7 linked regions of the Homo sapiens genome follow. The protein of the gene in region 1 purifies or fractionates together with the protein of each later gene. This does not show direct contact. Each region holds a gene or a part of one and is shown in the gene's direction. Other genes may lie near its edges. The genes, in order: SLC30A6, SPECC1L, ZNF239, SLC34A3, C12orf43, NUP155 and SLC2A6.

The links.
Region 2: the proteins of SLC30A6 (region 1) and SPECC1L purify together in Homo sapiens (affinity purification with mass spectrometry; 2 studies listed by BioGRID and IntAct, with this or other methods). This does not show direct contact.
Region 3: the proteins of SLC30A6 (region 1) and ZNF239 purify together in Homo sapiens (affinity purification with mass spectrometry; one large-scale study listed by BioGRID and IntAct). This does not show direct contact.
Region 4: the proteins of SLC30A6 (region 1) and SLC34A3 purify together in Homo sapiens (affinity purification with mass spectrometry; one large-scale study listed by BioGRID and IntAct). This does not show direct contact.
Region 5: the proteins of SLC30A6 (region 1) and C12orf43 purify together in Homo sapiens (affinity purification with mass spectrometry; 2 studies listed by BioGRID and IntAct, with this or other methods). This does not show direct contact.
Region 6: the proteins of SLC30A6 (region 1) and NUP155 purify together in Homo sapiens (affinity purification with mass spectrometry; one large-scale study listed by BioGRID and IntAct). This does not show direct contact.
Region 7: the proteins of SLC30A6 (region 1) and SLC2A6 purify together in Homo sapiens (affinity purification with mass spectrometry; one large-scale study listed by BioGRID and IntAct). This does not show direct contact.

The regions. Positions count from the first base shown.
Region 1 is NC_000002.12:32,193,364-32,196,863, forward strand, and holds part of SLC30A6 (zinc transporter 6), read left to right. Parts: intron 1-525; coding exon 526-620; intron 621-3,500. UniProt on the Homo sapiens protein: Has probably no intrinsic transporter activity but together with SLC30A5 forms a functional zinc ion:proton antiporter heterodimer, mediating zinc entry into the lumen of organelles along the secretory pathway.
Region 2 is NC_000022.11:24,416,035-24,418,238, forward strand, and holds the end of SPECC1L (cytospin-A), read left to right. Parts: 3' UTR 1-1,704; downstream 1,705-2,204. UniProt on the Homo sapiens protein: Involved in cytokinesis and spindle organization. May play a role in actin cytoskeleton organization and microtubule stabilization and hence required for proper cell adhesion and migration.
Region 3 is NC_000010.11:43,557,617-43,561,116, reverse strand, and holds part of ZNF239 (zinc finger protein 239), read left to right. Parts: intron 1-2,945; coding exon of another isoform or gene 2,946-3,037; coding exon 3,038-3,500. UniProt on the Homo sapiens protein: May be involved in transcriptional regulation.
Region 4 is NC_000009.12:137,229,505-137,233,700, forward strand, and holds the start of SLC34A3 (sodium-dependent phosphate transport protein 2C), read left to right. Parts: upstream 1-1,396; 5' UTR 1,397-1,434; exon of another isoform or gene 1,435-1,575; intron 1,576-1,698; exon of another isoform or gene 1,699-2,159; 5' UTR 2,160-2,198; coding exon 2,199-2,283; intron 2,284-2,468; coding exon of another isoform or gene 2,469-2,567; coding exon 2,568-2,657; intron 2,658-3,070; coding exon 3,071-3,199; intron 3,200-3,279; coding exon 3,280-3,423; intron 3,424-3,499; coding exon 3,500-3,611; intron 3,612-3,704; coding exon 3,705-3,900; intron 3,901-4,128; coding exon 4,129-4,196. UniProt on the Homo sapiens protein: Involved in actively transporting phosphate into cells via Na(+) cotransport in the renal brush border membrane. The cotransport has a Na(+):Pi stoichiometry of 2:1 and is electroneutral.
Region 5 is NC_000012.12:121,003,237-121,006,487, reverse strand, and holds part of C12orf43 (protein CUSTOS), read left to right. Parts: intron 1-93; coding exon 94-167; intron 168-1,394; coding exon 1,395-1,485; intron 1,486-1,995; coding exon of another isoform or gene 1,996-1,998; coding exon 1,999-2,335; 3' UTR 2,336-3,251. UniProt on the Homo sapiens protein: Plays a role in the regulation of Wnt signaling pathway during early development.
Region 6 is NC_000005.10:37,368,307-37,372,366, reverse strand, and holds the start of NUP155 (nuclear pore complex protein Nup155), read left to right. Parts: upstream 1-1,260; 5' UTR 1,261-1,389; coding exon 1,390-1,546; exon of another isoform or gene 1,547-1,701; intron 1,702-4,060.
Region 7 is NC_000009.12:133,476,300-133,480,397, reverse strand, and holds the start of SLC2A6 (solute carrier family 2, facilitated glucose transporter member 6), read left to right. Parts: upstream 1-1,298; 5' UTR 1,299-1,338; coding exon 1,339-1,430; intron 1,431-1,981; coding exon 1,982-2,144; intron 2,145-3,156; coding exon 3,157-3,363; intron 3,364-3,975; exon of another isoform or gene 3,976-4,061; coding exon 4,062-4,098. UniProt on the Homo sapiens protein: Probable sugar transporter that acts as a regulator of glycolysis in macrophages. Does not transport glucose.

The DNA.
Region 1 (3,500 bases):
CAGGAGTTCAAGACCAACCTGGACAACAGAGTGAGACCCTGTCTCCAAAAAAAAGAAACGTATATATGTTTCATATATATTGCAACTATGTGATTTTCATATATATATGAAAAGAGAATTGTATGTATCATATATATGAAAAAACAATTGTATTTCTCAACCACAGAGCTGCCAACTATATGGACCTTATCTATTCTGATCAGTTTAATTCCACAAAGTCTGACTTGTCCAGTATATCGTAAAACAAATACCATTGATATTTATACAGATTTATAACAGCGTTTACCTGTAGCAAGATACTGTTAATGCTAAAAGTCCTTACTTATCCTTTGTAAGATGGAGCAACAGTAGATGGGACATGGGTGATGGGGCTAGTAACTAAGTTCAGATTCTGTATCTGGAAACACCAAATCATTAAAGCAGACCACTTTACCTTCCCACCTCTTAGTCCCTCTACGTATTGAAATTACATACTGATAATACCAAGAACAAATTAAAGGTGAATGTTATCGTTGTTCTTTTTAGGGGAAGATTATTAGTTGGTACTTTTGTGGCTCTTTGTTTCAACCTGTTCACGATGCTTTCTATTCGGAATAAACCTTTTGCTTATGTCTCAGAAGGTATGTTTTTTATTTACTATTAATTTAAAAATCCAACTAATCTCTCATAAAAACAAGCCTTTTGTTTGTTTCGTTCACTCAGATCAATGAAGAAGTATATTCTGAAGACAAGAGAGAACTAGCCCAAATGTTCTCAAGTCTTTTTTAAGTGGAAAATTATAAAACAAAATCTCATTAGTTCAAGCTTTAAAATAACAAATTATTTTAAAACAGGCAGGAGTGACCTGTAAATTAAATCATGTGGTGATGAAAAATTACATTTACCAAATAATGTGAGATTCTAAATGTGTAATCTATCTAAGAAAAGTCTATTGTAAGCATTTTAGAAGTATCAGTATACTTAGAATTCTTAGTTGATATGCTAATTGAAAATAATTGTATTCTGTTAATAAAGTAAGTTCCCAGGAACTTCTCTTTGGCAATGGTGGATGGGCATATATGTTTGCAAGTAGCCAAACTTTATTTCTTTGGAAATATTCTTTTATTTTGAAGTATTTACAACTTCAGACTGATTTTTCACTTTTGCAGTCTAAATTATTTTCTTTTTTCAATAATTTCAGTGTTTTGGAATCCCACTAACCCACAAAAGAGTTAGCCACTAAGAGATGGAGAAGTGAGGTGAAAATAGAAGTGGGATGTGTGCACAGACCCACACTTTGAAGTATAGAGAAGCACAGATAGGTGTGGATCTTTTTAGATCTCACTCTAGGATAGTCAAGAGAAGAAAGTTTTCTGAAATGCCCATTCAAGTTTAAACAACTTCATGAATGTTATGAAGATAAATTGTGTTTGTATGAGTTAAAGAAGTACTGCATGAATTAGAAAATTAAATAATGATAATTAAGATCACTAGAATTTCTTGAAAAAAATTCATAATTTATAAAATACTATAACACTTACTCTAGAAATTTTTAAGATGGTGCAAAGATTTAGAAACACTGTTTCCCTGTAAAGATCAGGGAGATACAAGAAGGAAATAAGACTACTGATAATCTTATGACCCACAGATAATATGTTAACATTTCTATGTTATTCCTTCCACTTTTTTGTATGCACACGTACATATAATTTTATGTGCTTACTTAGAATTGTATATATTACAGTTTTATGCCTGGCTTTTTTTTTTTTTTTTTTGAAACGGAGTCTCACTCTCTTGCCCAGGCTGGAGTGCAGTGGCGCAATCTTGGCTCACTGCAACCTCTGCCTCCTTGGTTCAAGGGGTTACAGGAATGTGCCACCATGCCTGGCTGATTTTTGTATTTTTAGCAGAGACGGGGTTTCCCCATGTTGGCCAGGCTGGTCTCACTCCTGACCTCAGGTGATCTGTCCACCTTGGCCTCCCAAAGTGCCGGGATTACAGGTGTGAGCCACTGCGTCCGGCCATGTCTGGCTTTTTGATTAGCATTATGTCTTCAGTATTGCTTCTCATTAAATACTCTTTGAATGTAAATGATTTTTTAATGTTTGCATAATATTGTTATGAATATTTTAAAATATTTTATACATTTCTAACTTTTCCTTTTATAAATAACTCTATAATCAGCCTCTTTAGATCAACTTCGTCTGCATTTTTTATTCTTTCTGTAGGATAAATTCCCCGAGAAGGAATTATTTACTGGATTAAAAATACAGTATTTTTCAAAGGCTTTGTTGTATATTGCCAAATTTATTTCCAGAAAAGTTATCTAGTTTATATTTTTATTATATTATATTATATTTATTTATTTATTTATTTTTTAATAGAGACAAAGTCTACCTGTGTTACCCAGGCTGGTCTCAAACTCCTGGGCTCAAGCAGTCCTCTCACATCAGCCTCCCAAAGTGCTGGGACGACAGGCGTGAGCCACTGCTCCCAGCCTACTTTATATTTTCATTAGCTGGAAATGGAGGTTCCCAGAAACATCAAGATTTGTGACATTAGCTGGGCTTGGTAGCATGTGCCTCTAGTCCCAGCTACTCAGGAGGCTGAGGTGGTTGTATTGCTTGAGTTCAGGAGTTTGAGTTCAGCCTGGGAAACATAGCAAGACTCTGGCTTTAAAAAAAAATGAAGGCTGGGTCTGGTGGCTCACACCTGTAATCCCAGCAGTTTGGGAGACCAAGTCAGGCGGATCACAAGGTCAGCAGTTTGAGACCGGCCTGGCCAACATGGCAAAACCCTGTCTCTACTAAAAAATTATAAAAATTAGCCGGGCATGGTGGCAGGCGCCTGTGATCCCAGCTACTTGGGAGGCTGAGGCAGGAGAATCCCTTGAACCCGGTAGGCGGAGGTTGCAGTGAGCCGAGATCACGTCATTGCACTCCTGCCTGGGTGACAAAAGTGAAACTCCATCTCAAAACAAAAAAAAAAGAAAAAAGATTTGTGAAATTACTTGAAATTTGAGTGGGAAATAATATTAAGTACTTTCTATATGCCAAGCACTGCTAAATACTTTACATAGAATAACCTATTTAATTCTAGCCAGGTAGGTACCCAGGTTCTCACCTGGCTTTTTTGAGAGTTGAGGGAATTAATTTGTATGTAGTTTGAATATCCCTTATCTGAAATGCTTGGGGCCAGAAGTGTTTCACATTTTAGATTGTCTTAGATTTCGGAGTGTTTGCATTATATGTATGGGTTGAGCATCCCAAACCTGAAAATTTAAAATTCGAAACGCTCCTATGAGCATTTCCTTTGAGTATCATGTTGGTGCTCAAAGTTGTGGATTTTTGGTTTTCAGATTTGGGATCCTCAGCCTGTACCTATGGCCCGTTCTCAGCACACTAGTTAGGAAGCTCTGCTTAAAAGTATAAAGAACTGCTGGGCATGGTGGCTCACACCTGTAATCCCAGCACTTTGGGAGGCCGAGGCAGGTGGATCACCTGAGGTCAGGAGTTCAAGAC
Region 2 (2,204 bases), on another chromosome or scaffold:
CACTGCCCCACAGACTGGATGCAATGAGGGGCTCACAGGAGGCCCAGCCAGCCCGATTGTGGGCTGAGGGGTCTGCATTCAAGCACGATGTTCTAGAATAGGAGTTTAACGTGTCTACGTAACCTAGAATGTGGTTATTAGGAAAGGGGCTGTGCATGTGGGTGCAGCTGGCGGCACACCTGGTCACCAGATGGCCAGAAGCTGCCCATCAGCCCTGCCCAGATGTCAGCCTGGGAGCTCAGGCTGCTGCCGCTGGCTGGATGCCCTTTGGTGAAATGCCTGTTTTCAGCTAAGAAAGGAGAGGCCAGGCAAGCAAAGTCATGCCACAAAGCATATCAGAGACCCCCGCAGACTCCTGGCCCCGTCCCGCCCCCTGTCTGAGTTGTGTTTTTGTTGCTGTTCCTCTGTTGATGGCCAGCTCTGCTGTTGGCATGAGCCACTGATGTTCATGTGAGAATTACTGTTTTTAAGTGTCTCTCCACTTAGGTGTCCTCAGTTCCCACTTTTGCTCTCATTTGCCTTCACAGAGGCCACTCCACCTGTCCGGATCCAGCTGTCTGGTCATGGTTTGGTTTATTTATTTTGTCCTTCAGGGGCTGTTTTGCCCTAAGAATGAGGGGGCTTCCCCTGGTCTGCAGTTCCCAACTTTATCCCTTGCTGGCCATGCGAGCCCAGCCCTGGTGCCTCATGGGATGGGGGGGTAGGGGTCCCCAGGATCTTCTGGAGGAAGGTGGCCATGGATGGATGGGCTGTATCTGTGTTTTCCCTCTGGGAGTCTCATGGGTCCAGCATCAGGCCTGAGGTCAGCAACAGGGAAAGAGGGTGGGCACGGGGAGGGCTTGGCCCCGCCTATCTAGAGGCTTGCCTCGGGCCCCTCCTTGGGGAAGGTTTGCGTGCAGAGCTGCAAGGGAGAGGGTTCCAGAAGCATTGCCTTTTGCCTCGTCTAATAGGATCCTTAGGACACTGTGGGCTTTAGGAATGACTATAGATGCTCACACGTGTTTAAAGTGACATTTGGAGATGCTCTCAGTCCTGTGGCATCTGGCACGAAGTCTCCAAGAAGCCACTTTGCCTCTTCTCCCTTCAAGCACAAGCTTTACTGCAAAAGGGCCAGTCGCGTTTCTATTTCTCTCGATCCCAGGCTTCTGCGGACCGACGATACGTTTAAATGTTGTTCTAGTAAATATTCTTGAATGTATTAAAATGGCTGAAACAACAAGCTTGGGCTTTTCTAGCTTGCCCTCCACTCCCTGCCGTCCCTCTGACGTCGCATAAACCAGAACCCAGCTCCCTCCTGGGACTGGCTGTGGAGAGAAGGGCACCTCTGAGCCAGCCTGTGGCCCTACCCCAAGGCGCACTTCCTCATGTGGGCAGATCCTGACCAGGAGTCCAGGGTGGCCTCCCCTGGGCCACAGCACATCACCGTGTGGCCTGGGGCTGTGGGACAGTGAGCCCTGTAACCACTAGGGTTCTGTGACAGATGCCAAGACCCCAGAGACCGTGGCAGAGCTACCCCCAGGAGAGCGGAAGCCCCTACACAGCCCAGACACATGCCTTCCCTGGGGGCTGGGGAGTGTGTCTCGAGGGGTTTTGTTTGTTTTGAGGCATGTATCATCTTGGAAATAATTGTCAGGATGTATAAAATAGAGAAAAAGAAAAAAGGTATCCTACCCAGAGGCAACCAGATAAACTTTTTTGCCTGTGCATTGTTTTTTGTTGGTTTTTTCGAGACGGGGTCGATCACGGCTCACCACAGCCTTAACCTCCAGGGCTCCAGCAATCCTCCCACCTCAGCCTCCTGAGTAGCTGGGACCACAGGTGTGTGCCACCATCTCCAGCAGTTTGTTTATTTATTTTTTCTTTTTTTTTTTTTGGTAGAAATGGGCTTTTCGCCATGTTGCCCAAGCTGGTCTTGCACTTCTGGGCTGAAGCAATCCTCTCGCCTTGGCCTCCCAGAGCCTTGGGATTACAGGTGTGAGTCACTACAGTGATTGTGAATGCACTGAGCTGGCCTGGAGAACACTTACCACCTTGTCCACGTCACATGCAAAAGGCCCATGGTGGTGGTGCTTCCTGCACACGAGGGCATGTAGTGAATGCCCTTCCCAGGTGGAGACTCCTCAGGGTTGGGAGCCCAGCAACTGCCTTGGCCCTGAGTAAGCCAGGAGTTGCACTGTGACCTGCAAGTGCTTGGGAGCTGCACC
Region 3 (3,500 bases), on another chromosome or scaffold:
TTCATTTGCATTCTTGGAGAATTCCTCAATCTTCCATCTTAGCCATGTGTTCATTTTACTATTTAACTCATCTAGATTGCAGGCGTTTGACTAAAACAGCCTGACACATATCTAGGAAACAAGTGACATAACCTATCATCATCTTCAGTCATTTTATTTAGAATTATTATTTTTCATAGCAATATGTTTATATTTTATTATTAGATTGTGTTTAAATGTGATATCCTCTCCAGTTTTTCTGGGATTTTAATTATGTACCTTTTAAATTCTGTTGGTCTCCTTATATATTTTTTCAAAATTCTTGTGTTCTCAGCATGATATTGGAGTGTGTCCTCAACCCATGCTTGACCCACTTTGGCATGCATATGTGTTTTACTTTAGGGGACACTTCTGCTGATTGGGCTAGGGAGGGAGGTAATAAGAATCCAGATGGTGGATATTATAGGCCTTTTTTTTTTTTTTTTTTTTTTTTTTGACAGTTGGCAGAGCTAGCTGAGGTTTTATTTTGGGAAAAAGAAAAAATTTGAATTGTTTTGTAGCTGGATACATGGGCAAGGGGACTACCCAGGCAGTAAACTGGCCCCACGGATGGGCTAAGGGCTAGGGCTGAGCCTCAGGTGGGCCTCCTATTCCCTGTACTCCCCTGCACAGTGGTGTAGGCCATTTTTTAAGTCCACCTCTTTTGCCACTGAGTTATCTGGGGCATGCCCTGCTTCTTTATTTCCAGCGCTGGGCTATCTTCCTTGTCAGAACTCCCATTAAAAAGTTTAGCTTGAAGTTTTATCCTGGGCACTTATGTTGTCAATTACTTCTTTTTTGTACCTTAATCCATTGGTCATTGTGTACGTTCAACATTACCTCAACCTCTGCTTCTCTCTTCAGTCCAGTTAATATTATTAGCAGTCTTTCTTTGGCAGATCATTTATTTTATTCTTGAGGCTTTATATGAGGGCACTGCTGCTAGCCATCCAATATTTCTATTTCTAAGAGGAAGAGGGTGGGCTGGGAGAGTGCTGCTAACAGCAAAAACTAGCACAGCTGTTAGGAATGCCTAAGTTGAATTAGGAAATGTCTTACTTTATCATTGTTTATTATTTTCTGAGACATAGACTCCAGAGAAATGGGGTCAGTGCTCCCTTACTTTGTAATTATTGATTCTGAGTTTGGTAATTGAATTTCTATGATTTCTTAGGATGTTTTACCCACGAAGAAGCCTTCTGTTATACATAATTTGAGCTGTACATTTTTTTCCCCTAGTTCCTCCATCACTCCTAATCCATCTGCTCCTTATCATTTAGGAGTTCCTCAATGTTTTTATTCTGATGATATCAGCCTTTCTGTTTTCCCAAGAGTATTATGGATTTCTTGTCATTTCAGTGTAATATTAGGCTATTCACTCTAATTGTTTAAGTCTCGGGGAGGGTTTTGTTTTTGTTTTTGTTTTTTAATATACCAGTAAGTCTAAACTCTGTATTCCTAGCACAGTTCTCTCACAGGAGTTCCAGACCTATATATATCTCACAGCTTACGGACCAGTACTGCAAGAATGTTCCACCAACACCACAGATTATACAAGGCAGTTCTGCTGCCTTCCCTACTTCAGCCTCTTCCTGTTGCATTTCCTATCTGATTATATAGCACCACCATACCGTCACTCAGGCAGGAATCCCAAGGAACAGGCTTGGTGCCTCCTTTCTCTTCTAGGTTTAGTTTATCATCACATGATCTAGAATGAATTTCTCCTATTCTCTCCACAACTATCATCCTTACCGTTTTTCTTCTGATTTGCTATGGCAGCCGTCTCGCTACCTAAAGTCTTGCTTTCCAGTGGTGTTTATTGTCACAAAGTCAGTCATTTCACTCTGAATTAAAATTCTTTAATAGTTTTCAATCCCTTCAGGGTTTAGCCCCAAGGTCCTTATTATTAGACACTAAGCCCTTTGCTCTGTCCTCTTACTTCCCCTCCGTGGCACATTCTTCACCACTCTTACTGTTTTTATCTCCTTCGTAAGAAGCCGCTTGTAGTTTTCTTTAACATGTCATATTTTCTCTCCACATTTCACTTCCTTTTTTTTGTTTGTTTTTTGTTTTTCCTGTCATTTTCTCCCAGAAATCTTCCTAAACACCAGGGTCTGAGTTGAGTGTTCCTCTGCTGTGCTTTCGTGGCTGGTTAGGCATACATCTCTTGTACTGTATTGTACTATACATTCATCTACACCACTCACTTAGTATTATCATTATTTGGTGTATTTGTCTTCCCAGGAAGCTTTAGCTTGTTAAGCAAAAGGATTTATATTTTCTTCCTTGTATTCCCCACACCTATGAAAGCAGAATACCAATTAAATGCAAATTTACTTAAAGGAAAGTAGGCCGGGTGTGGTGACTCATGCCTGTAATCCCAGCACTTTGGGAGGCTGACGCGGATGGATCACTTGAGGCCAGGAGTTGGAGGCCAGCCTGGTCAACATGGAAAAACCACACCTCTACTAAAAATACAAAAATTAGCTGGGCATGATGGCATGTGCCTATAATCCCAGCTACTTGGGAGGCTGAGGTGGGAAAATTGCTTGAACCTGGGAGGTGGAGGCTACAGTGAGACCAGATCACACCACGGCACTCCAGCCTGGGCAGCAGAGTGAAACTCTGTCTCAAAAAAAAAAATGAAGTGAGATGAGATGAAATGTTATTGTTAGCAAGGATATAGGACTTACAGCCTTCTATAGGATTAGTTAGGGAAGACTTTCCTTGGCTATGCTTAAAAGCCAAGAGAAAATTTCTGTCTTGTACCCAGATACAAATGTACCTGACCTTAACCCAAAGGACATGACTATAAAGACAAGCTGAACTTTTTCCTAGTTACTAAGACTTCAGGCCTTAGGCACTCTCACTCTGAAATCTTGAAGTCTACCCTTTGTTCTTACCACTGAATTGTCTTTGTTCCCTAGGAGACTTGAATGAAAATTCTGTGGAGAATCTTCAGCAGAAAACACTTCAGGATCTGTTACATGAGCTTTCCTCCTGGCTAGTTTTGGAAGGCATGGCCAGTACAATTACTGGAAGTCAGGATTGTATTGTGAATCATCGAGGGGAAGTGGATGGGGAGCCTGAACTAGATATTTCCCCTTGTCAACAGTGGGGAGAAGCATCTTCTCCTATTTCCAGAAACAGGGACAGTGTGATGACTCTTCAAAGTGGTTGTTTCGAAAACATTGAAAGTGAAACATATTTGCCTTTGAAAGTCTCAAGCCAAATAGACACACAAGACTCTTCAGTGAAGTTCTGTAAGAATGAGCCTCAGGATCATCAGGAAAGCAGACGTCTCTTTGTAATGGAAGAAAGCACTGAGAGAAAAGTGATAAAGGGGGAAAGTTGTTCAGAGAACCTTCAAGTTAAACTGGTGTCTGATGGACAAGAACTGGCCTCGCCATTGTTAAATGGTGAGGCAACTTGCCAGAATGGCCAGTTAAAAGAATCTTTGGATCCCATTGACTGTAACTGCA
Region 4 (4,196 bases), on another chromosome or scaffold:
TGCCCAGAGCAGGTCTCCCCTCTCCCACAGACGTCCCCGGGGTGTACCGGGAGGGTGGCAAGACTACCTCCTTCCTCCCTGCCCTGCATGGCAGCCCTGTGAATTCACCCACTCAACAAAGCTCATGGAGTTCCCACTGTGTGTCGGGTGCGGTTCTGGGAGGGTCTCGTGTAGGCACGAAGCCATACAGGCATTGAAGGGGATGCCTCGGCGGGGCCTGCCTGAGGCCAACAGAGGGCTGGGGCCTGCTTGAGGTCTCACAGCCCAGTTGGTCTCATCCTTCGCTGAACCTTTCCTGGCTCCGAGCAGCCACCACACAGACCCTTTTGAGGGGCCGGGGCTGGGGCTGGGGCCAGACTGTGGACAGCAGTTACCACCAAGTCAGTGCTGCAACACCCCCACCCCCACTGGAACGAGCTGTCACTCAGGAGCCCCAGGGAAGGACTGCTGCCCCCCACCCCCAGAGCAAGGGCGCAGGAGGGAGACGGAAGAGAATTTGCTGAGCGGACACTCAGAAGCTTCTACCTTCTCCAGGGCAAAGTCCCCATGCACACAGCGGGGGCTGGGCAGCAAGCAAAGCAGGGCACCAGCAGCCCCTGGGCAGGGTGAGCCTCTGGGGGAGCTGCCCCGCACCCCAGGGCAGGAAGAGGCCCAGTCCTCCTAGGGGACACCCCACAGGCGGTGGGGCCAGCTGGGACTCCGCTGGGGAGAACTGTGCGCTGGGCCAGGCAGCGGGTGGGGAAGGTGGCCTGGGGAGCTCTGTCCTCCCCTCTGCAGATGGAGGCTGCCGGCCGCCGTCGCTGGCTATACCAGGGCCGAGCCCGCTAGCAGCCTGCTGGGCCCAACCCTGCCCTGAACCCGGATCTGAACCCTCTGACCTCGGGCTGGGTGCCCTCCCCGGCTACGTGAAAAAGCCCGTCCTCCCCCACCACCTGGTGCAAAGGGCTTCCCTCCCCTGCTCTGCCGAGGGCAGGGATGACCCTGAGAAGGTCTGGGGAGCCCTGAGGTGCATGGAAGTGGGGGACTGGCGTCTCTCGACTCCCGGGCAGCCCCAGCCATACTCTAGCATCCTGCCTGGCTGGGTGGAGTGTGTCTCTTGGGTCACACGGATGCCTGCTGAGGATGCCCAGTACCGAGGGCCGGTGCCCCGCCCCGCAGTGCCCTCGGCCTGATTCAGAGCCCACCCCTGGGAGGAGCCCCACTCCAGGAGGGTTGGGCTGGGGCTTGGAGGTCCTAGCCACAGAGTGACAGGATGGAGACAAGGCCTAGGGGCCTTGGGGCCAGGAGGGTACCCCCGTGAGGGCCTGGGCTCCTGGGTAAACATTAATGGGCTCAGTACCCAGCAGGTCATGTGCGCGATCAGGGGATCTTTGACCTGCAACTGCTCCCGCCCCGTGTCTCCTCCCTGCAGGTGCCCCCTCACCACCCACACAGGTAGGAGCTCCTAGGACCAGGCTGAGGCCCAGGGACAGTGAGGCCGAGGCTGGGTGGCCTCCAGGCCAAGGGCTTGGGCCCCATCCTGAGTCTCCAGGACCCAAGGGCAAGAGACGCCAGGCTTGGGCAGCAGGAGGGAGGGTGAGGCACAGGACGCCTGGACCTGAGCCCAGGGCACTAGGTGGAGGGGTCCAGGTGGGGGGCCCCAGGGGTGGGGTGACCAGGCCCAGGAGGCTAAGGCAGCAGCTTCGGGGCCAGGAGCCTTGAAGTGGTGTGAGGACCCCACCTGCTCCCCATCACCAGGGCGTGGGGCCCTTATCAAGCCGAGACGTCACTGTTTAGTATCAAATGCCAAAGTCTAAGTCGGGACCATCCACAGTGTCCCCGATGACACCAGATAGGGGAGGTCCCCAGGTTCCCCAGCTCATGGCCTGCACCCTCGGCACTAGCCTTCCAGTCAGGACCAGCAAGGGAGCCGGGGAGCTGGAGCCCCTTCGAGTCTACCCCTGAAACTGGACTGGGCTCGCCTGACAACTGCCTGAGGTCATTGTAGCCATCCCCCTGTGGATGGAGAAAGGGGGATGGTCACTGAGGCCTGCAGGGCGTAGAGAGGGAGGGTGGCGGCCAAGGGCTCAATTCAGGGGACCCAGGGGTGTGAATCCAGCTTGTGAGGACAGGGCCGGGGCAGGAGGAAATGTCTCTGACACGCGCGTCCCCCCCAGCAGATCTAGACCTGGGCCTGGGTCTGTCCCTGCCCGAAATCCATGCCGAGTTCCCTTCCCGGCAGCCAGGTCCCCCACCCCACTCTGGACGCGGTTGACCTAGTGGAAAAGACTCTGAGGAATGAAGGTACCAGTGGCCCCTGTGCCCCAGGCCTTCACCAGTCTGACCACCCACCCCCCAGGCACTGGGCAGAGACAGGCCAGGTTTCCTGCGGGCCTCCCGGGGAACCCACAGGGCTCATGACGCCTCCACTCAGGTCCAGCCCAGCTGGAGCCCCATCTTCCCCGTTCCGTTTCTGTCCCTCACTCCAGGCCTCTTACGCCTCAGCCCGTCCTCCGGCCTGTGCCCTTGTGCCCCCAGTTGGAGGGAGGTGGTCCTGGAAACAGCCGTACTCAATTCTACCTCCACAGGGACCTCCAGTTCTGCTCCAGTCTTGGAGGAAGGGGACACAGACCCCTGGACCCTCCCTCAGCTGAAGGACACAAGCCAGCCCTGGAAAGGTGGGTCTGGAGGTTCCGGGGGTGGCAGGCTGGCAGGCCTCTGTCCCCAACGGGACTGGGGAGACAGAGCAGGGTGGGGCCTGCCCAAACAGGCTGTGTGTGGGGAACTCCGCCATGCAGGCCCCCTCTGGGGAGACACGTGTCCCTCAACCGGGTGTCTGTGCTGTCCTGGGGCAGACCGGCCACCTCTGCCCATCCGTCCCTCCCCTCCTGCTCCTGCGAGGGAGGGTCCCAAGGGCTTCTGGCTTGGAAAGGCAGGAACCCGGGCCCTGCCCTGGGGGTTACGGAAGAGGAGGAAATGGGACCCAGCCCTGTTGGAGACAGAGGAGAGAGGGGGCAGAGAATGAGGGGCCTGGGAGGGAGACCTGTCAGGGTGGAGGGCCAGCCAGGGACAGCCTGCCCTGTGTCCTCAGAGCTCCGCGTGGCCGGCAGGCTGCGCCGCGTGGCCGGCAGCGTCCTCAAGGCCTGCGGGCTCCTCGGCAGCCTGTACTTCTTCATCTGCTCTCTGGACGTCCTCAGCTCCGCCTTCCAGCTGCTGGGCAGTGAGTGACGGGACGGGTGCCCAGGGCGGGGCGGGCAACCAGCCCTCCGCAGCTTCAGCGCACCTCTCTTGCCGGTGTAGGCAAAGTGGCCGGAGACATCTTCAAGGACAACGTGGTGCTGTCCAACCCTGTGGCTGGACTGGTCATTGGCGTGCTGGTCACAGCCCTGGTGCAGAGTTCCAGCACGTCCTCCTCCATCGTGGTCAGCATGGTGGCTGCTAAGCGTGGGTGCACACTCCCTCCCCGGGTGGTGGGGGGGGCAGGGTGGGCCGCAGGCTGACTCAGCCCCCCCACCAGCAGTGCTGACTGTCCGGGTGTCTGTGCCCATCATCATGGGTGTCAACGTAGGCACATCCATCACCAGCACCCTGGTCTCAATGGCGCAGTCAGGGGACCGGGATGAATTTCAGAGGTGAGTTGTGGGTGGAAGGGCTGGGCTGGGGCTGCAGTGGCAGCCCCAGCCCGGGCCCCCCCACCTGACCCTGCCCACTCTCTGCGGCCACAGGGCTTTCAGCGGCTCGGCGGTGCACGGGATCTTCAACTGGCTCACAGTGCTGGTCCTGCTGCCACTGGAGAGCGCCACGGCCCTGCTGGAGAGGCTAAGTGAGCTAGCCCTGGGTGCCGCCAGCCTGACACCCAGGGCGCAGGCGCCCGACATCCTCAAGGTGCTGACGAAGCCGCTCACACACCTCATCGTGCAGGTGAGGACGGCCACCGCCCCCGCCCAGAGAGCCTGAGCAGGCCGGATGGGAGGAGGGGAGGCCCGCCCTGCCCTGATGGAGGGTCAGCGGAGGGTCTGGGCCCTGTCCTGGGACAGGGGAGGAGAGGGCAGCAGTGGGCAGGGCTGGGCTGGACCCCGCGGGCGCCAGAGCCCCGGGTGAGTCCTGAGAGAGGGTGCAGCACACCGTCACGACCCCTCTGGCCCCCAGTTGGACTCCGACATGATCATGAGCAGTGCCACAGGCAACGCCACTAACAGCAGTCTCATTAAGCACTG
Region 5 (3,251 bases), on another chromosome or scaffold:
TCACATACCCCATCCCCTCCACTTGAAAAAGAATTTTGTTTTTGTCGTTATCCAAAAATCTCATCTTAAATCAACCGTCTCGTCTCCCTGTAGCTTCATTACCATCTCAGAAGCAGCAAAGGAGCCAGCAAAAGCTAAGGTACAGAAAGTCGCTTTGGAGGATGATGGTGAGTGGTTATACTTAATAGAAGCTATCATTTATTAAGCACCTAATGTGTGTCTGGAGGTGGGCGAAACAGTTTTGGTATATTCTTTTTTTTTTTTCTTTTTTTGAGATAGGAACTCTCTCTGCCACCTAGGCTGGAGTGCAGTGGAGCAATTATAGCTCAATGCAGCCTCAACCTCCCGGACCCAAGCAGTCCTCCCACCTCAGCTTCCTGAGTAGCTGGGACCACAGACACACACCACCACCCCTGGCTAATTATTTATGTTTTTTAGAGACAGGATCTCGCTATGTTGCCCAGGCTGGTCTTGAACTCCTGGCCTCAAGCCATCTGCCCACCTTAGCCTTCCAAAGTTCTGGGACTACAGGCGTGCACCACCACACCTGGCTAATTTTTGTATTTTTTTTTAGAGACAGGGTTCTGTCATGTTGCCCAGGCTGGTCTTAAACTCCTGGCCTCAAGCTATCCTCCCGCCTCAGACTACCAAAGTACTGGGGTTACAGGCATGGGCCACCTCACCATTCTTTCATCTGCTCAGCCCCTGTGGTGAGGCAGGTATTATGATTGAACCCCATGTACAGACAAGGAGACTGAGGCCCTGAGAAACGAAGTCATTTGCCTGAGGCGGCCTCGTCTGTGTCACCCTGAGCAGGAGCACTTTACTGCTGCCCTCCACAGCCTCGCCCATCTGCGTCTGTCCTGTACCAACACATTTGCCACTTTGAAGGCTGCCTTAGGTCAGGAGCTCAAGTGCTGACTTCCAGAAGCCTCTGAGGGCTTGCTGAGCTGATGTGGCTGCTGGCTCCTGCTCCAGCGCGCCCTCCACTGGCTCCATCAGGCATCAGCATGACCCTTGGCAGATGCAGAATCACTTTGTAGTTAGACGACTGATTCCTGGGTCTTTGCCTCTGGACCAGGAGCTCCTGAGGGCAGAGGCGGGGCAGCTTCAGCACCTGGCACCTGGGAGGAGGGGCTGGCATCTGGGGGTGCTGACTCTGCTCCTTTGTTTTTTTTGTTTGTTTGCTTGGTTGGGTTTTTTTGTTATTGTTTCTTTTTTAAATTTTTTTATTTTGTGTCTTCTTAAAATTTTTTTTTTGTTTCTCTTTATCTTTTCTTTCTTTCGTTTTCCTTTTTAAAATTTTTTTCTTTTTTGTTTCTTTATTTTTTATTTTTTTATGTTTCTTTTTGTTTTGTTTTGTTTTTGTTTGACTCTGCCCCATTGAATCTTAGGTTTCCGCCTTTTCTTCACATCTGTCCCTGGAGGCCGTGAGAAGGAAGAGTCTCCCCAACCCCGCCGAAAGCGACAGCCCTCCAGCTCCAGGTGAGAACTCACACCTCTCCTCACGTCCCCTCCTTTTTTCTCCTCTTCTGTCTTGGTGGGTTCCCTGGAATAGCCAAGCAGACTCCAGTCAGGACCAGGCCAAGGCAGTGGCCCTGTCAGGCAGCTGGAGAAATCATGAGCTCAGCGGGAGGGAAAGCCCTCTTGGCGGCAGCTTTGGATGTTTACTGCTTTTGAGCACCTGTCTTGGGCCAGACACCTCACTTGATCATAGTTGCCTCCTGGGACATCCCTGGGAGGCCTGGACTCTGTTAAGATCCCCGTTTTAGAGATGATACAGTCAGAGAGGTTAAGTCACTTAAGGAGGTCACAAGGCTGCTACGCCCAGAAGCCAGTATTGGAAGCCAGGTTGGCCTCACTCCCAAGCCTGAACTCACTACCTGCCTCTCTCTGCGGCCACCTTCTGGTGACCTGGACCAAGGGAGGACAGCGAGAGGCAGCTCTGGGGCTGTGTCCTGACTCCAGCTAACCCAGGGTACCCTCTCGTTGCAGCAGTGAGGACAGTGACGAGGAGTGGCGGCGGTGCCGGGAGGCAGCTGTGTCGGCGTCCGACATCCTACAGGAGTCAGCCATCCACAGCCCTGGAACAGTGGAGAAGGAGGCAAAGAAGAAAAGGAAGTTGAAAAAGAAAGCCAAGAAGGTGGCCAGTGTCGACTCGGCTGTCGCTGCCACCACCCCCACCAGCATGGCCACAGTCCAGAAGCAGAAGTCAGGTGAGCTCAACGGGGACCAGGTGTCGCTTGGGACCAAAAAGAAGAAAAAGGCAAAGAAGGCCAGCGAGACCTCTCCATTCCCACCAGCAAAGAGTGCTACAGCTATACCTGCAAACTGAACCCAGCCATGGGCACAGGGCTCAGCCAGCTCCAAGGACAAGGTGTCCCCCCCACCCTGGGGACAAGGCATTTCCAAGCCCCACCTCCCTCTCCAAGTTCAAGGACTGGGCTGGCAAACCCAGACTGCCCATGAGACCCTGATGGTGATGAAGGCTTGCTCGAGAGTTGGGCCAAAAAAGTGGCTGTAGGGTGAGAAGACCAATCAAGGCCTGCCCCTCTGTGCTCCCACGGAGGGCTGGCGGGGGCGCTGTGGTTCCAGAACATTTCATGACCTCAGGAAAAAAGGAACCTTCCAGTTATTTGAGACTAGTGGCCAAGTGGTGAAACCTCCATCTCCCTAGAACTGTCTGAGGTGGGCAGGGGAAGGGAGACCTTCCCCACCACCTCCTTAGCCTGGTGTGAGAAACAGTTTTTAGAAAATGAGAGAAGGGATCCCCAAGAGGCCAAGGCCCAGAGAAACTTTTGTTCTTCTCTCCTTAGCCCACATAGACTTCACAGAATCGTCTGAGAAAGGAGAGCTTTTTCACCCCTGGCTTTCTAGAATTTTCTTTGTCTGCATTTGTGAATATACCACACATGATGGTGTCTCTGAGCCGACCAGATTATGGAAACTCAATTGTCAGAGGACCCAAAACAAAACTTAGAGTGATTTGGATATTGCCTCTCTGTCAATGCTGAACCTTAAGACATTTTAAGTAAACATCCTCCTCCTCTCTACACCCCCAGGATTTGTGCGTTCACCCCACCCAAGACTTCAGGAAGTGTCATAGCACTCGTGGACTAGGTTTCATGGGACAAAGGCATTCTGCAAGAAGTAGAAGCTTGTGGCCGGGTGCAGTGGCTCATGCCTGTAATCCAAGCATTTTGAGAGGCCAAGGAGGTGGATCAATTGAGGCCAGGAGTTTGAGACCAGCC
Region 6 (4,060 bases), on another chromosome or scaffold:
CCAAATAAAGTAAACTCACAGCTAGAGACCCAACTGCCTATCTATATACCAATGATAAAAAATCCAGTTTTTCTTGGTATATTGGCTATGTCAAATTTTAAGTGTAGATTGGTAACATCAAAGAACTTTCAATTTTCAGAAATGTAGTCAAGTCTTTGAGGGAGTAAAAATGTAATTCAAATAGCAAAAGACCAATTTAGAGTAATTCAGTTATTGATTTGTGAAATTCTGAAGAACATAACTGGAAGCTTTCTTAGGTGAGATTCTAAATAAGAGCAGCTTTCTAAAAAGTGCTTTGATTTACCCACTCAGGTTGCCTTCTGTAGTAAATGAAGCCTCTTTTACCTCTCTGCTTTCTCCTATCCTGCTATAGTTTATACCTATCCAAATAGAAAAATTATAATGAAGCCCTTTGTCTCTGCTTGAAGCACCTTAAGGACAGGAAACACTGTGTTAGTTTGATAGTCCCAGCACCAGGCACAAGGCAAGTATTCAGTTTCTTAGGATTGTATGAACTCTTGGGTTCCTATCTCATACGAGTTCCTATACTAGCGCTGGGAATGGAAAGATGAATTAGAACTGTCTGCTATCTCTGCCACGATAAAAAGCACGGCAGCGGTCCACCTGCACTCAGCTTCTTCTTAAACACGTATTTTATACTAAGGGGCAACAAAGTCAAAAGACAGCGACACGCAAATGGAAAAGCCTGATGAATTCTAATTTACACTGAAGCCCGCGAAGAATATAGTGAGATACTGGTTTATATCCCTCTCTGTGACAGCGACCTACCAATTCTTAACTACTCTCACAAAAGCAGTTACTTGGAGAACCAAACTGCGCGCTCATGCGCGAACTCATATAGCTGCAGTTAGCGGATACCGACGCGGGAAGTTCCAAGACTCAGGTCGAGCACGCGCTTAAACCAACGGAACCTGACCAACCTCCTAGGCCAGACACACGACCTAGCTCCCACCTACCGTATCCCTCCTCCCTCCTTCCTCCTCACCCTATCCAACCCCATCCCGCCCCTCTCCTTCCCTGTTCCCTCCCCTTTATCCTTCCCTTCCTTTCCCTCCCTCCCTTCCCTAAATAACCTACCCTAATTTTACCCTGCCACACCCCAAAACCCTCAACCCCCTCGAAAGCATCAGCAGCCTCCTAGCTCCACCCACAACCTCTAGCCCCCTCCCAACAGCTTCCTCTTCCCAGGCCAGAACGGCGTCTTCCAGTTCCCCACCGGATGAAGCGGAAGTGCGTCATGTCGAGGCGCCAAGGCGCTCGTTTGGCGCGCGCGCCCTAGGCGGCGGATCTAAGCTAACTTCTTGGATCTTTTCTTGTTTCTCCTTGGTTTTTGACTTTTTCTGGACCCTGGTGTCTACGATTTCCGAGATGCCGTCTTCTTTGTTGGGCGCGGCGATGCCGGCCTCTACATCTGCCGCAGCCCTGCAGGAAGCTCTGGAAAATGCTGGACGGCTCATCGACCGTCAGTTGCAAGAGGACCGCATGTACCCGGACCTTTCCGAGCTGCTTATGGTGTCTGCCCCAAGTGAGTGATAGTGACCCTGCTTTCTCAACCTAAAGGACTCTCGCCTGACTTCCTAATTTGCTACTTATCCCCAGCGTTGGTCCCGGCGAGGATATGCTGAGATTTATGGCACTGTTGGCTGCATTTTTGGAGAACAGCAAGCAGCTTCTTTTCAGGTTTTTTCCTTTCCTCACTTTCTTCATTGTAGATACTTGAGAGGGCAAGAGTGAAGAGCAAGCTCCCAGTTGAAGCAGAAAGAGGCAAAGACCTCAACCTTAATGAGCTTCTCGCCGCTCTCAAGTGCTTATGGCTAAGGCCATATGAGAAGCATCTCCAGATCCAAGTCCCAAATTTGTTCATTTCTCCTGTTAGTGTTTGAGTAGATCGTAAGAGCAAACGAAGTTAATTTGGAAATTTAGCATGTTATCTTAAAGATACGCTTTGCTTTATATTTATTTGTTTATTTATTGAGACGGAGCGGTTCCCTCTTCGCCCAGGCTGAAGTGCAATGGCGCGATCTCGGCTCATTGCAACCTCCGCCTCCTGGGTTCAAGCGATTCTTCTGCCTCAGACTCCCAAGTAGCTGAGATTACAGGCGCCTGCCACCAAGCCCGGCTAATTTTTGTGTTTTTTAAGTAGAGACGGGGTTTCACCATATTGGCCTGGCTGGTCACGAACTCTGACCTCAAGTGATCCGCCCGCCTCGGCCTCCCAAAGTGCTGGGATTACAGGCGCAAGCCACTGCACCCGGCCAAGAAACGCTTTATTATGTGTAGAGATGTGTGTTATGAAATGCTGGAGGATCTTAAAAGAACTACCAGTGGAATAAAGAAAGAGAACAGGGAAATCACAGTGCTTATGTACAGGGAGAGTAAGGCAGAATATGTGTTGACAATATAGGTGACTGGAAAGTAATTTGTTTAACAGTTTTAAGTTATAACCAGCTCCCCACGGCTTATGGAATTACATCAGTTGCTAGAAAAAGTGACCCCTTTGTGAGATGGAATTTGGAGAAAACCAGCGAAGTGTAAGAAAGAAAAGATTGTTGGTGAGCAAGAACCAAAGTAATCTAAATAGGATAATTTGTGCAGTGTAAACCGAGAACACTTCTGATTATTTATAAAAATCATTGATAGCTTTGTAATCAAAGAAATGATAGAAACAAAGATAGTATTTGCTCCCTACAGCTACTTACCAATGAGCGTGTCTTATAATACCTGATTGGCCTATTAGCAATTATCATCTTGAACAACATTACTCATTTTGGCCTCCTTAGGTGTGAAAACAAGATATAAAAACAGTGCATGCATTCTGGTCCTTCTCTTACATATCTCATGCCTTTACACACACCTTCCTCTTTCACCCAGTCTCTTCCCCTTCTTTTCCATCCAATTTTTCATCCGTTGCTCTGATTACAGAGAATTTAGCATATTTTCCGTAAGAAGCCCCATCTTCAGGATTTCCTCAGGATTTTATCTTACTTTTATTGTTTCTGCAATGTTCTTTTTTTGCCTGACAAACTTTTTCCAGACTCCCTGTGAAAGTCCTTAGTTTCTCTTTGTTGTCTTTCTTTTTCTTGTTCTTTTTTTTTGAGTCAAGGTCTAGTTCTGTTACCAGGCTGGAGTGCAGTGGCATGATCACAGCTCATTGCAGCCTCTAACTCATGAGCTCAAGTGGTCCTCCCGCCTTGCCCTCCCCAGTAGCTGGGACTACAGGCGCCTGCCACCACACCCAGCTAATTTTTAATTTTTATGTAGAGACGTAGTCTCACTCTGTTACAAGGCTGGTCTCAAATTCCTGGCATCAAGCAGTCCTCCTACCTCAGCCTTCCAAAGTGCTGAGATTACAGATGTAAGTCACACTCCTGGCCTGAAGTCTTTCGTAGCATTCCCATCCTCACTAAAGTTATCGATTCCTCCCTCTGTGTTCCCACTGCCATTTAACATGGTGATCTGCCACCTTCGGCCTATTAAAGTTATGTTTTAGGATTAAATGGGATGTCTGGATTTGCTTTATTTATTTATTTTTTGAGACAGAGTCTTACTGTCACCCAGCCTGGAGTGCAGTTGGCATAATCTTGGCTCACTACGGCCTCCACCTCCCAGGTTCAAGCGATGCTCCTGCCTCAGCCTCCTGAGTAGCTGGGATCATAGGTGTTCGCCACTGGCTCATTTTTCTATTTTTAGTAGAGACAGGGTTTCACCGTGTTGGCCAGGTTGGTCTTGATCTCCTGACCTCATGTGATCCGCCCGCCTCGGCCTCCCAAAGTGTTGGGATTACAGGTGTCACCCACTGTGCCCAGCCTGGATTTGCTTTAATATGAATTCAGCCCAATAGTCTCAGCACTTTGGGAGGCCAAAGTGGGCAGATTACTTGAGCCCAGAAGTTTGAGACCAGTCTTGGCAATATGGCAAAACCCAGCCTCTTAAAGAAAAGAAATACAATAATACAAAAATTAGCTTGGCATGGTGACACACACTTGGACCCCCAGCTACTTGGGAGGCTGAGGTGGGAGGATAACTTGAGACGGGGAGG
Region 7 (4,098 bases), on another chromosome or scaffold:
CAGGAGAATCGCTTGAACTCGGGAGGTGGAAGTTGCAGTAAGCTGAGATCGTGCCACTGCACTCCAGCCTGGCCAACAGAGCGAGACTCCGTCTCAAAAAAAAAAAAAAAAATACACATATAGATATGTAAAAATACATACACATATATATGTATATACGTATATATATGGCCACGAGGACTGTGCAGCCTGATCACCATACCAGGGTGTGCCTGAGTCCAAAGCCTATGATCTTGATGGCAAGAAAACGGTGACGTAAAGGGGCTGCACAGTTTAATGGGGGCCCCAATAGCAAATATGCAAAATAGGCACATGAGGAAAAGACTGGAAGAGGCTAAAACGCCATCAAGGTCAGGCTGACGGGAGATGGATGTGATTTTATTGTTCTATTATGGTTGTATTTCAATCATAATAAAAGGGAATTCTAACTTTTAAAAATGCTTTACCATGTTAATAGCTAAAATGGGAAATGACCCAAATACTCAGCAACAAAGGCTCCGTTTAAAAGCGTGTGTGGCACGTCCATCCAACAGAGCAGGGCGTGATTCCGTCCTCTTCCCGAAAAGGCCCAAAGGGAGAGGTGGAACTGCTGTGGGATTTTTTGAGGACGGTCTTCCCGGGAATTTTCCATTTCTGCTTTTCTTATTTTTCAATGTTATCTTACTACCTGGGTTACGTGTCACGAGCTCAGGTTATTTCTACCACCAGAGCCTGGGGTGGAGGATACAGACCTCGCCCACTGGAGCTGCCCACAGCGCCTCGCCGGCCCCTCCTGCCTCCTTCGTCCCGCACATCCGCTGCTGCCCTGACACACCCCGATTCCCTGGTGCCAGGGAGAGCCAGGGCAGAGGTGGCCCTGAGACGCCACGCGACGGGGAGGGCTAGAGCGTAAGGAGGAGCGAGGTGCGCATTCGCTGTGACCCTGGCGCTCGGCTTCGCCTCTCTGGGCCTCGGTTTCCACCCCGCGGGAGCGAGTACGACAGGGGCTGCGCGCATTGCCGCAGTCACGCCTGCAAGAGCCGGGCCGGGTGAGCCGCTTCCGGCGCTCCGCGGGGGCCCCGGACGATCCAGCAGGGGCTCCGCCCTGGGACCCCCATCCTGTCTTGGGGCGTGACCTTCGGGGGCGCACGCGGTGCCGGCCGCGCCCGGGGAAGCCGGGTCCGCATCCGAGCATCAGGACAGCCTGCGGCCGCCCCATTGGCCGGCGTGTCTCTGCAGGGCCGTCCCACAGCCAATAGCGGCCAAGGGGCGGAGCCTGGCCGGTGCCCTCGGAGCTGCTGGCCCCGGGCGGCTGCTCCAGTCTGAGCGCCCTCCGCTCGCCCCGAGAGAGACCCGGCCATGCAGGAGCCGCTGCTGGGAGCCGAGGGCCCGGACTACGACACCTTCCCCGAGAAGCCGCCCCCGTCGCCAGGGGACAGGGCGCGGGTCGGGTGAGAGTCGCTAGGTTGGGGGCTGCGGGTGGGGCCTGGGGGTGGCCCTGGTTCCCTCCAGCCGGCGGCAGGCTCCCGCCCTGGGCCTCCCCTGACCTAGTCGCCACCGAGGGGCCATCTGGCTCCCTCCTGTCCCAGACACGCTACTCCTATTTAAGGAACTGGTCCCCCTAAGGGAAGGAACGATCCACGAGAGTACCGGGCCCAGCCCCCCACTGCCACAGACAGTGAGACTGAGGCCCCAGCGAGCAGGGGTTCTGCCTGAGGTCACACAGCAAGCCTCCAGCCGCCGCCCTGGGGGCAGAACCAGAGCCTCCTCTTCCGGAGAAAAGGCCCCAGCACCAGAGGCTCAGCCACTGCGGATGAGCTAACAATGGCCTGGGAATTTCCCAGGGGAGCTGGGGCTCAGGCCCTGGGAACGTGAATGGCCTTGGACCCAGGCCTCCCTAGCACTGCCCGCTGAGCCGGGCAGCCACTGGGTTCAGAAAAGGCAATGGTCCCTGGAGGAGGGACTCAGAGACCCTGGTCTTTTTGTCCGCCACCATCACCAGGACCCTGCAGAACAAAAGGGTGTTCCTGGCCACCTTCGCCGCAGTGCTCGGCAATTTCAGCTTTGGGTATGCCCTGGTCTACACATCCCCTGTCATCCCAGCCCTGGAGCGCTCCTTGGATCCTGACCTGCATCTGACCAAATCCCAGGCATCCTGGTTTGGGGTAAGGACCATCCTCTGGAGGAGGGTGGGTGCAGGAAGGAGGGACCTGCTGAGCCTTATCTCCAGCTAGGAACCTCCCAAATTCTCCACCTTGGGGGTCCCTCCAGGGCCCTGGTCCCCCCTCCCCCAGCCATCCAGGCCACTAGTGGGTGGGGTAAAGCTACAGGATTCCTCTGAAATGAGGAACTGAAAGCCAGTGGAGAGGGTGAGGGAAGGAGCAGGTGGGGAGGTGGCTGTCAGGGTCTATACTAGGTGGGGCTGAGGCTTCCCCGGGTCCCCACACCCACAGTTGGCTGGATGGGGGCAAGGGTATCAGGTGTCAGTGGGGAGAGGCACTGGCTGGGGCAAGGAGAGTCCGCAGGACAGATTGTGGGCTGATGGAGAGGAAGATCCCAGAGTCCCAGAGTCTAAAATTATAATCTTAATAGCCTCATATGTAGAGTTGTTAACATAGTAGTTAAGATAAAAATTCCCAAGGTTTACTGAGCACTTCCTATGTGCCAGGCATGTGTTGGGCACTGAACGTTCATTGATTCTCAGGGCCAACGCCACGAGGTAGAACTTGCGCTCTCCCCATAAGACAGCTGAAGAAACTGAGGTGCAGACAGGCTGGGCAATGTGCCCAGGTCCCACTACCAGTTAGCAGAGTCCAGAGGGGGTCCCAGTTGCTGCTGTACAGGGAACTTAAGAACCTCCAAATCTTAAAGCCCAGTACCTTCAAGTCACAGAATTCTCCTGTATTAAAATATTAGACATTTAAACATCAGGCTGGACAGAACCACTGTGGATATGTGGCGCAGCACCTCTTCCTTAGAGCAGAATTCCCCGTTTGGGCATCCCTAACAAATGGCTGTTCCTTGAAGACAGGAGGCTCCCTGTTTCAAGTGCTTGACTTGGCCAAGTGCTTGACCAGCTCCTGGGGTCGGCCTAGGGAAGAAGCTGTCCCTGGACTCTGATGAGATTGGGGTGCCAAGTGCCCAGACATATCTGCCCTGCACCCCCTTCCCCTGCAGTCCGTGTTCACCCTGGGAGCAGCGGCCGGAGGCCTGAGTGCCATGATCCTCAACGACCTCCTGGGCCGGAAGCTGAGCATCATGTTCTCAGCTGTGCCGTCGGCGGCCGGCTATGCGCTCATGGCGGGTGCGCACGGCCTCTGGATGCTGCTGCTCGGAAGGACGCTGACGGGCTTCGCCGGGGGGCTCACAGCTGCCTGCATCCCGGTAAGGCCAGGCCTTCCCACCCAGGCGCCCCAATGCCTCTGTATTGGTGCTGAGCCTCCATCTGACTAAGGCCTCCCAGCCTCCATGCCTTCTGGGCAATGAGAATTGTTTGCCTTCCCTGCGGATGCCCAGGGCGCCTCAGCTCACCCCCAGCAGGGCAGCTAATTTGGGGGAAATTGTCTCCAGGTCCCCAGCTGCCCCCACTCTGGACTTTCCAAGCCTTCTACCCCGTTTCTTGACCGGTCAGATGTATTACTCAATTGGAGAAAATCCGCATTGAGCAATGGGTAGGAGAGGGAAGTCCCTGCCCTACACCCTCCCCGGGACCTTCTTATCTTATGTGGTACTCCACACGGGGCCTGGTGGTGAGCCCAGCAGAGGAGACAAAACTCACTGGGAGGCATGGACTCACCTGCTCAGCCCTGAAGCCTGGGAGCCCTCGGGCCTCCTTCCCAGCGTCATGCTGCCCATTTCCGAGCTGCGTACTTCCACCCACGTCACAGTTAGGGAAACTGAGGACAGAGAGAGATCAGGCAGGCCGCCCAAGGTCTTGCAGTGAGTCATGACCAGGACTCAGCCCCACCAGAAAGCCTCCACTTCCCACTTTCCGGGGTTCACAGGGGCTGACTCTCCCATCTCGGCCGGGCCTAGGAACCAGTATTTTCAGCAAAACCTGGTGCGGCGGCTGTGTCTTGCAGGTGTACGTGTCTGAGATTGCTCCCCCAGGCGTTCGTG